Linked DNA regions of Homo sapiens: region 2 is linked to region 1. The links come from fine-mapping of genetic effects on gene expression. Tissue or cell type: whole blood. Region 1 holds a variant in brackets; the other region holds the start of a gene. All regions are shown on one strand. Distances are between the middles of the regions. Region 1 overlaps RNF182 (ring finger protein 182). Region 2 holds the start of RNF182 (ring finger protein 182).

Region 1 (5,389 bases):
AGTGTTGGGATTACAGGCATGAGCCACCGTACCTGACTGCAAAACTTATTCTTAAACTAAGAATGCTTTTGTTCATAAGATATCAGGACATCAGGACATTTCCTGGGTCTGTTATTTCCTGGGTTTGTTAAGTCCTGGGTCTGTTCAGTAAACATTATTAACTTCTTCCCTTAACTGTAAATATCCTATGACTAAAAATGTCTAGCCTCCTGGGAATCCAGCACAGTAGGTCTCAGCCTCATTTTACCCAGCCCTAATTCAAGATGGAGTCACTCTGGTTTGAATGCCTCTGACACATTTCCCCCCTCCCATTTATAAGGGGACCCTTAATCCTGAAGGTTGCAGAGGGATAGAAATTTATCTTCTGTAGCTTCTTCAGGCTGAACAGGGGCAATGATATTCCTGCCTAACAATTTTTAGGGTCTCTTGTATTTAGAGTTGGGAGGAGTTTAGTCATAAAGTGTTAGTATGGTGAAGGTCATTCAAAACTCTGAGTCCTGATGAAAGATGATACCTGGAAGATTAGTAAGTATTTAAGAAAACATTGAGTAAGCTTATCCTGAATTATATACAAAGAGTACAACAGCAATATATTCTACAACTGTAAAGCGAAATCAGTAAAATTGTCTAAAATTAAATAAGAGCTTTCTATGAACTGGGCAATTGTGGGAACCAAGCTGATATGGGGTCGCTAGCTGATTTCATTATGTGTCCAGAATTAGAATAGTGATTCAGATTTTTATGTTAATCATGCCTCATGTTTCTTTTGAGCAGCAGCCAGAGATCACTGGTTGGTTCACAGGAATAAGCAGGGTCAGTCTAAATTGCAGAAAAAACTCAAAAACAATGGATGAGACTAGAGTCTGGTAACAGGTGTACCATAGTTTGTGAAACATAATTTTTCTCTCTCCAGTCCCTATTTTTATTTAAACAAACCATGGTAGGACTGATTTGTTGGCAAAATAAATTTTAGTCTTATTGTATGTGGACTGATTTGTTGGCAAAATAAATTTTAGTCTTATTGTATGTGGCCTGGTTATTTGTATAAAGTGAAGCAAGAATAATTATTTGCCATATAGGCTCTTTTGGCTTTGATGGAACTGTGTTCTATAATCTAATCTTAGATTAGACTTTTTAAAGCCTTGAGACCAGTCATGGATTTATGTGTGTCTGCAAATATGAGTTGGATAAGTTTCTCTCCTCTGGATGTCCCAAGATATTTGGGGCTCCTGGGCCTGTCAGAAAGTGACATTCTTTACTTGCTACAGGTCAGGAGCCCTGTACAAGGCTCAAGATATGAGGTCAGTTTTCTTAGGGGCTTTAATTGGCTCTATAAATGAATTTTGATTCCTTAAACCAGTTTGTTTACATTTGAAAGCATGTCAGTCATTCCAGTCAAAGCCTTGGTAAAATAACCAGTGTCTCCAATTGTGTCTTGTCACAAAGGAAAAATTCTTACTGGACTTATGTAAATAGCTATATCACCATAAGTTAAAAATACTCACAAATAGTTTCCAAATTTGGGAGAAATCAGGTAGAGAGAAAGAAATGTGCTCTAAATTTTGTTTACAGTAGTATATTATACTCAATTGTTGAAAGCTGTAAATAGCTCAAAATAAAAGTTTTCTTGACTCTGAAAAACAAAACAAAGGCAAAAAGTCATGAATAGATTATTTTGGTCTTCTATTAGTTGTCTATGCAATTCCTGTTTTTCTCAATATTTATGAATACATTAGTTTTCCAAGAGTCTTGGAAGTTTTTCTTCGTTTTAATGGCATACATTTCAAAGCTGTGAAAGTCCTGCTTTATAAGAGTACTTGTCAGAGTCCTATAACTGATTATAAACTGCCTTTTGAAGAGAATCAAAACAAGACAATTGCTTGTAGATGACAAAAAGTCTTAGGGCAGCTACAGTCAGAGACACAATTGACAAGGAAATTTGGCCCCTTGTGGCACACAATAATTTAAGATAACAATTATAACTATTAATGATAACATATACTAAGTTATACCAGAATTATAGTAGTTTTGCATAATTTTGGAACACATACCAATAACACATTTAAATAACCCAAAAAATGTCAGATGCCATTTTGTATTTGACAGTACTTCCTGTATGATTTTAGTATGTCAAATAAGTCAAATATGCCATTATTGGACTTCAGGGGACCTAATATCTAAAAGGATTATCAAGTCAGGAAAGACTTATTAAGTCTTTAGGTCCTACTTAAGTCCTAGTTTGATTTGGGAATGTTTGTTAAATAGCAAAGGTGTAAAACACTTTATGTTATAAAATAGAATCTCAGGTCACTGTAAGTCATTTATTTAGCCAAAATGACAACTTAAAGATTTTAAAAAGGCAAAAACCTTTACCCATTGATAGAGGGAAGAGTTAGCTTTCCAAATAATGTCTCTTTTCTCTCCTTTCTTTTTTTTTCTTTAGTTTATTCAAAAGACAAACAAAAATCTTTTATCTTTTAATATTACATGAAAATCTTGTTCAAAAGAGAAAGCCAAATTTCACTTTTGCATTAATGTACTATTAATGTCAAATCCAATTTTTAATAAAATCATACGGACAAAATCTACTCACTCCTAATCAGTTTGACCATAAAGTAAGATTTTCACAAACCTTTT[A/G]TAACCCTTTAAATTTTTTGTTGATGGCAAGATGGCTGCCACTGCCTTTGCCAGTGCAGTGAGAGCAGCTTCAGGAATCTTATAGCCCCTGAATATTTTGGCATCTTCAGCCTACCAAAACTGTGTGTCAAGAATGCCTCTCTTATTTCTGCATTGTCCACTGGACGTTTTAGTCATATTCAGACACCAGTTGTTTCCTCTGCTCCCAGACTTACCACATCTGTCAGAAACCTGACATGTGGGCATCCTGCGGTAATCTTTAATAGAGTGGCCCCCTTGCTTCCAAGTGTCCTGAAGCTGCCAGTCAGATCTCTAACATTCATTTGTACACAAAAAGGCAAGAGAAAGACTGTGAAAGCTGTCATCTATAGGTTTCTTTGACTTCATTCTGGCCTTTGGTTGACGAGAAAGGCTGGTTATAAGAAAAAATTACGGAAAAAGACACTTGCAAGAAAAAAGCAATTGAGGGAATCTGTGTTCTGCAGTAAAACCCAGAGTGAACTCTTAGATAAAATGATGATGTCCTTCTGGAAGAGGTGAAAAACTGATATGACGATGATTCTTATCAGAAGTTATCATGATCGAACAAACCTGAAAGTATAGATCAGAAGTTTTACTTGTTTCTCAGTTATTGAATATGTATCTTTGTGTACGATATCTTCACAAAAATGGGTAAGTATAAAACTTGATGTAAATTGTACCAACGAATAGGTAAACATACAGTGCCAACGTTAAACTTATAAAAGTTTTAAAACTTAAAAAAAATTTTGCTGAAGAGTAGATCAGTGCTCTAAGAAAACCCTGTTGTGCATTTTTCCAGTATTCAATTTATGGAAAAACTAAACAATACCCTCTTAATTTTAGTCAATTTGTTCACACACAGAATTTCTTTTACAAGATTAATTTTTCACAAACTTTCCACCATTTGCTCAAATTTTTAGCTTTATTCTATCTAACTTAAAATAATTATTCAGCCCTCTGAACTAGGCAAGAAACTTCTCACATTCCCATGTCTTTTTATAAGCTTTTACAAAAAATACATTCTACTTTTCTTACATACCTTGCTCCAATAGTCTCAATTACATATGTTACAATGTTAACTCGTAGCAACTTTTATTTTTGGTGAAAAACTTGGTGAGTGAGCGATTTTAACCTTGTATCAGATTGTAGAGCCCAAGACAAGGACAGAGCTGTAAAGTCTGACCTTCCCAGCCTAGTCAGGGGACCAGGCTAATTCCATACATCTCAAGGCCTTACCTGGAATTCGCTGTAAAGCAGACAAGTCAAATAATTATAAAAAATGTCATAGAAGCAGTTTATGACCTTAACACATTTACCAAGGACAGTATTCAGCTTGCCTAATTTAGACTAAATGTCTAAAAGTCATGTGAACTAAATGACATTAAAGTTTTTATTTTTCTGACAAAACAGGTACTTTTTTTTTTTTTTTTTTTGACAGAGTCCTGCTCTGTCTCCCACGTTGGAGTGTGATAACACAATCTTGGCTCCCTGCAACCTCCATCTCCCGGGTTCAACAATTCTCGTGCCTCAACCTCCCGAGTACCTGGGATTACAGGCACACACCACCACACATGGCTAATTTTTGTATTTTTAGTAGAGATGGGGCTTCACCATGTTGGCCAGGCTGGTCTTGAACTCCTGATCTCAGGTAATCTGCCTGCCTTGGCTTCCCAAAGTGCTGAGATTACAGGCATGAGCCACCACACCTGCACTCCCCCTTTATTTTTTTTGAGATAGAGTCTTGTTCTGTCACCTAGGCTGGAGTGCAGTGATGCAATCTCAGCTCACTGCAATCTCTGGCTCTTGGGTTCAAGTGATTCTCCTGCCTCAGCCTCCTGAGTAGCTGGGACTACAGTCGTGTGCCACCACACCTGGCTAACTTTTGTATATTTAGTAGAGACGGGGTGTCACCATGTTGGCCAGGCTGGTCTTGAACACCTGGCCTCAGGTGATCTGCCCACCTCAGCCTTCCAAAGTGCTGAGATTACAGGTGTGAGCCATTGTGCCCAGCCACTTATTTTTCTTTAAGTCAGTTAACCAGAGCTCTTTCATATGTAAACATCACACACACAACACATATAAATACACGGAGAGATGGAAGAAGATCTAATAGTTATAATATTTTTTATTTGCCAGTTTTAAGTTTCTTAACTGGATTACTGGCTTCAGGCAGAAGACCTTCAAGGAACAGGGTCAGGAAAGCATGCAGTTTCTAGGGCCTAATAAGCAGGCATGGTTGGAAGGCAAAACAGATCCTCCAAAATTAAGAGCCCCATTTTTATACTGGATCCTTGATCCCCAAAAAGAGAGAATTAGCCCATCCCCTATGGGAGTCTTATCTCTCAGTTGGGGTGGGGACATTTCCGTACCTTCCAGGTGGTCAAGAACATGCTTCTCTGATCCCAGTGTGCCAAGAGCAGAGTATTCCTCCCTCATAGCTGCCATTAGCTGTCCCTAAAAGTATATGTCCTACCTAGTTATTACACACCAAGGCTAAAAGCTCTCATAATGCAAGTGATTTTGACCATTCATTTAACCAGTTTTCACAGACAGGCCAGAAGCCTGACTGGTAGGAAATTCCTACCTTTTTGCCAGCATGCCAGGTTTCTGGGTTACCTTTCTCTGAGTGGCTCTGATAGTCTTGCTTGTTGCCCCATAGCTGTGGGGTCCAAGCCACATTATAAAAGAAAATCATCTTTTTCCATTTCGTGGACCCATAGGCAAAGACTCT
Region 2 (5,389 bases), 24 kb before region 1:
ACATTATTAATAAGATATTATTTTTTTAAAGTTATTGTTCCAAGTCTTTGAAATCTGGTGTGTATTTTGCACTTACTGAACATACCAATTCAGTAGCTAATTCATATGTGGCTAGCAGTTACTGAATTAGACTGTGCAGCTCTAGATCTTTTTAGGAAAGCAAATTCATTATTTTAACCTCATTTCAAAAATGGTGAGAATAAGAAAGACTAGTCATGTATCCACACATTAATTTTTAAGCTTTAGTATCTTCAGTTTCAGTTTAGCTAAACAGACTAAAAGCTGCCACTTAACCTATTCAAATGATATCCCCTGGTAAGTAAGGTGGCACATTTTAAGATGGTTTCCTGACAAGTCTTTTAATTTTCTCCAAGAGGCAGAATGGAAGCAGACCTTAAGATAAAGCTAAACCTCTTTTGGAAAAATGAATGTCTGGAAGAATGTCTCACAGAATAACGCAGGACCAGGTCACTAAGCAATGCTCTAAGTGGGGACACAACGTGGACTTTTCCAAGCCTTCAGCTGAGGGCAGGGATGGCCAAGTCAATGGTCCCTCCCTGTTCTGTATTCAGTTTTTGATCAGGCAGTAATGTGCATGCAGGTCAACAAACATTTATTAAAGCTTTTTGTTTTTGCTTCTTCATTGATAAATTACTAATAAATGCTCATTTGAAAAAGCCAAACAAACCAAATATGTGTACTAAATTGTACATCGTAAGAGGTAACTGTCCCTTCAATTTTTTTTGTAGTTAACAGGTTACCACTTCTAGCAATTAGGTAGGCATTCTTATAGACCTTTATCCCTATGTTTTTGTTCTGTTCCTATATATCCAGTTTTTTTGTACAGAATGGGATCACCCACACATACGGTTCTGAGCCCCCCTTTTCCATTTAATAAGAAATCAATATCTATGAATTTTATATATTTTATTCTTATTAATGGATGCATAGTATTACATGGTATGAAGTGCCACATTATTTAACCATATCACTATTGATGGGCATATAAGTTGTTTCAAACATTTACTATTACAAAACTTCTGCAATGCATATCCTTTTATATCTATCATTACACATTTGTGTGTTTCTGTATGACAGATCTCTAGAATTGAGATAGCTGGGAGAAATGTATGTGCATTTTGAATTCTGGCAGGTATTGCCAAATGCTTAATGGCCTGCCAAAAAGACCTTGTCTTTTGACTTCATCTGGAATATTATTGACTTCATTCAGAATATTCCCATTACAAGAAAGTGGCCAGTCTCTCCGAGGAACAAACTGTTTTCCTTTTCCACCATGAAATAGATCTTATCTTTTCATTAGTTAATATAGGTGTACCTTCAAATGGCAATAACATTGTTCTGCTTTGTGGCTTCTCAAGTAGTAAACCCAGAAAACATCAGCTACCGTGGATTTTATTATAAATCATTGACATTCCTTTGGTGATTCACAAATGCCAAAAAATAAATGTCATGTTCCCCAGGGTTTGAAGAAAGACACTGTAGCTTTTGGATTCAGCAACGGATCTTTCAAGAAAACAGTATGGAGGGATGACTCACTCCCCCCATGGAGGCTGCCCTCTAGTTCGTCCTTTAGAGGAAGCATGACCAAGGGTCTGCTGGTACTTTTCTCTCCCTCTCTAAGAATTTCCTCAGGAGAGGAAAAAGTTAGCTTTCTTTTCTCTGCTCCTGAGTGCCATGGCCTGCAGTACGTGACCAGTCCTTGGCACAGAGTCACTCAGGGCTCATGGTAGATGCTTAGCGGTCACAGCCAGTAGCTGCGCAGTGTGGCAGCAGCTGAGATCCATACTGCAGCCTGAAAGTTGTGTTTCAGCTTCTGAGGTTACAAGTGTATCCAGTGTTTACATCAGAGATAAAGCCCCCTTTCCCCTCTCTCCTACGGGAGCCCTCAACAAGACAGATACACGGGTTGGGTGGAGTGAGACCACATCCAGCAGAGGCAAAGCTTGCTAAAAGAGAGAGGAGGAGGAGGGGGAGAGGGAGGAGGCGGCACGGCGTCCCTTGGCAGCTCCGTGCATGCTGCGGCAGTTGCAACAGGAGAACCGAGTACCAGTTGCTCAACACTTTATCACTTTGCATTGCTCTTTCTCCTCCCTTAAGTGAATTTCCATTTTGAGGGTACAGCTCCACAGGAGAAAGGTGTGGTGGTGGTAGTGGTGGAGGGTGTCTGTGGGGGGGATGGTGGTGCGACGGGAGTTGGAATGTCCAGTGTGGGGAAGCAAAGGAGTGCCTACTAGGATGCGAATACCACTTGGCCCTGGGCTCGCTCCGCTTTAGCCTTCCCCTCTCGCTGGGGAGAAACAGGCGGTTTGTGAGGGAGACTGAGAGAGGGGCGTGTTTGTGGTGGTGGCGGCCCATCGGGGGTCCTTGTCCTCTCCGAATACCCGGACTGCTGAGGGGAAGGGCCGGGGGGGCCCCGGCGGTTGCCATGGTGACGCAGGGTCGGCGGCTCAGCGCCGTAGAGACAAAGCCGCCCGCCCGCCAGCCCGCTAGCTCCTCGCGCGAGCTCCTCCTCCACGGGAACCTCCCTCCCCTCCCAGGCGCCGCCGCAGCCGGAGCGGCTCCCGGGCCCTGGGCCGCCGCCGGCCAGGTAAGGCGATCGCGCCCGCGGCCGGGGAGGGGTCGGCGGGACGCCGGGCCTCCCCAACGCTGGGGCAGCAGCCAGCCCCGCAGTCCTGGACGGCGCCGGGCCGCCCAAGCGCGCCGAGGAGAGGGGGCGGCAAACTTCGGGCCGAGCGGCGCCGGGGCCCGCGCGCGGAGTCTCCCTCCGGGCACCACGGGGGCCGCCGTCCTGGCACCAACTTGAGGGGCTGTGCGGCGGAGGGCGGCTGCGGAGCGCCCGCGCGGGCTGCACCTGCTCAGGGAGCTGCCCCTCTGTTGTTGTTGTTATTTTCCTTCTTGGCGTGCCATCGAGGCTTTTGGGGGAAAAAAAGGTATGAAAGTATTTACCTTTGGACTTTCATGTTTCATGGCATTCTCTTTGAGGAGGGGTTGGGAGGGTAGTAAGAGGGACAAGCGAAAGATTTTTACGAATCTCTGAAAAGTGAGCCCATTTTTATGCCTGTGGCTGAAGCATTTTGAGGAGGCTTCTGAAGTTCGTTTGGATATTGAATCGAAAGACCTTTTTTTCTTTGGAAGGTGCAGTTGCACCTATAACTGGATGGTAAGGGTAGCCCGGCTTTCCCCGACTAGCAAGACCAGAATGTAGAGCAGTACCGATACTTTGTCAAGGAGATACTTGGCACCGAGGTCATTGCTTTTGTTTCTAGAAGGTATTGTGTTCATGCTGTAAGGAACTGGAAAGTGCCTTTTGTTTTTATGTGTAGGGAGGCAATCCAAAGCACCTCTGGAGGCAGGTAGCTGGGCGGTGTTTGCATCGGTGTTTATGAGTGGGATGATGAGGACCACGATGCGGTTGCCACTGGGGCACTGGATAGGTTATAGGTACCTTTCTCAGTGGCCCCAACCCTTGCAATCATTTCGTGATAGTTTGTTGCAGACGCGAAGCACAGATTTAAATTGTGACTGTGAAGACTTTTTTTTTTGGTACTTAGACATCATCTTACATGTAGTAATATGAAAGAAAACAGATACATTTTCAGAAATACAGTTGATCAATTCAGAAGGAAATTGTATATATGTTAATAAGATTTGTTTTAAATCATATTTAAACAATATGAGATGTCATATTGATAACTGGAAAATAATCTAACATATAAAATTGTATATCCAACTTAGTAAAATAATGTATAAGTTGGAATAGGTCATTTAAAGAACTATATGGAATGCAAGAAATTATATTTTTGCTAGAGAGTAATTAATGAAAACAGTACCACTGATCATTTTGAATTGCAGTTAAGTTGATTGGAATTCTGCATATTACAGCTACTTGAGGTGTCAGGCAAAGAGTGATTATTTAATATTCCTCTTCCCTCTTTTGGGATTTCAACACCTGTTAGCCTGCTGATTACTAGGTTTCTCAGTCTGTTCATATTTGCCAGCAACTTCAAGTAATGCCACTTCATTAGAAGATTGTATTGGAAACTAAAGGATTGAAGTTGCAATTAACAGTTTGCAGGTTATTTCACAATTGGGCTTGTTTTTAAACTGAATTTTACCTGTGGAAGATTCACAGATGCTCTGCTAAATACTCTTTCATGACGGTAATAAAATCGTACATTGATTAAAACGAAGTAGATCTGTTTTGAGAAGATAAACGGGAGAGAAAAGTATTTTCTCACTTAAGCATGAACAGCAAATAGGATATTGAAGCCTAGGCACATTATATAGACAGAGAATGTAGTTTTATGTTTTGTACTAAAAATAAATTATTTTGTGTGTTTGTGTGTGTGTGTGTGTTTTTTTTTTTTTCCTGAGGGACCAACAGAACAGCTTTATTCAGATCTTTGTTAGCAAAACCAGTATTCAAGTTCAAGGACTTGGTCCGTGCTTTCTGCCAGATGAAACCCACACTGTGAGTTCTAGCCTAAACATTTATGTTGTGGCCCTTAATCTGAGTGCTGAAGAACGGAGATATCCATGGTGAATTTAGCACAGTAAGGACCGGTGCTTTGCCTTTGCTGCTAGCTCACACGGGCACAACATTCAATATAGTTTGGCTTCTTCAGAGCTGCATCATTTTCTGCCAAAAAATAAAGTCGGTATACAGAAATCAACAATCATGTATTGCATGCACTGCTTGGTTGTAGTGGCTTATTAATAAGAGCTCCGAAGCATGAAATGAAGCTTGTGTCAGTGCAGTGGAAAACAATAATCTGGCATGTTTATATGTGTTACTAGTGTTCTGAGGTATGTGCATAACCAGATAATGAAAGAAAAAATACTATGATATCTGCAATATGTCCTTAGAAAATGCAAACAGCAATTGTGTTTTCTGTCCATGGTTTAGCCACCTGGTGGAAGCAGGCAACAGCATTGCATATCCCCAGGTGTAAAATACTAGTCATCACTCTTGCTGATTCACGGGAGTAGGAGTCTTTTCCTGCATTTTAGCTTACGGGTTTTAATTTTATGACGTAAAATTGGTCCTAATTTTTGGTATAAGCTGTAAAATATGGCCTGATAATTGTCACCATAGCTGTATTCTACCTGAAAGAATTCTGTAATTCAGTTTATGAAGCATATCCAAAGACAAAAAAAAGCCACAAATGTTCCTGTTTAAGTTAGGATTAACATTATGTTTGTGCCATTGAAAGTCAGTTGTTTGTAACCATATAAGCCTGCATAGGCAGCCTAAATAAAGCCACTGAAGCCTTTATTGACTGTTTCTGGGTCAACATTCTCTTGCAATTTCTAGTTGCACTGTGATAACATGATTACTGGTTGGTAATTTAGCATCTAGTGCAATGTG

What was found. PIP is the estimated chance that this variant, and not a neighbour inherited with it, causes the effect.
Region 2: RNF182 starts here. The variant in region 1 is fine-mapped to the expression of RNF182 in whole blood (TOPMed, PIP above 0.99).

What each region holds. Positions count from the first base shown.
Region 1 is chr6:13,946,427-13,951,815 of GRCh38, forward strand. The region is part of intron 1 of RNF182 (ring finger protein 182); the gene reads left to right. It also overlaps the pseudogene MRPL35P1. Among named protein-coding and RNA genes, the nearest start is that of RNF182, 24 kb to the left of the region's middle. The variant A/G (reference allele first, on the strand shown) is at 2,638.
Region 2 is chr6:13,922,416-13,927,804 of GRCh38, forward strand. It overlaps RNF182 (ring finger protein 182), which reads left to right and starts at 2,537. Exons shown (of 3, transcript NM_152737.4): 1 at 2,537-2,608. RefSeq lists an enhancer at 1,432-1,932.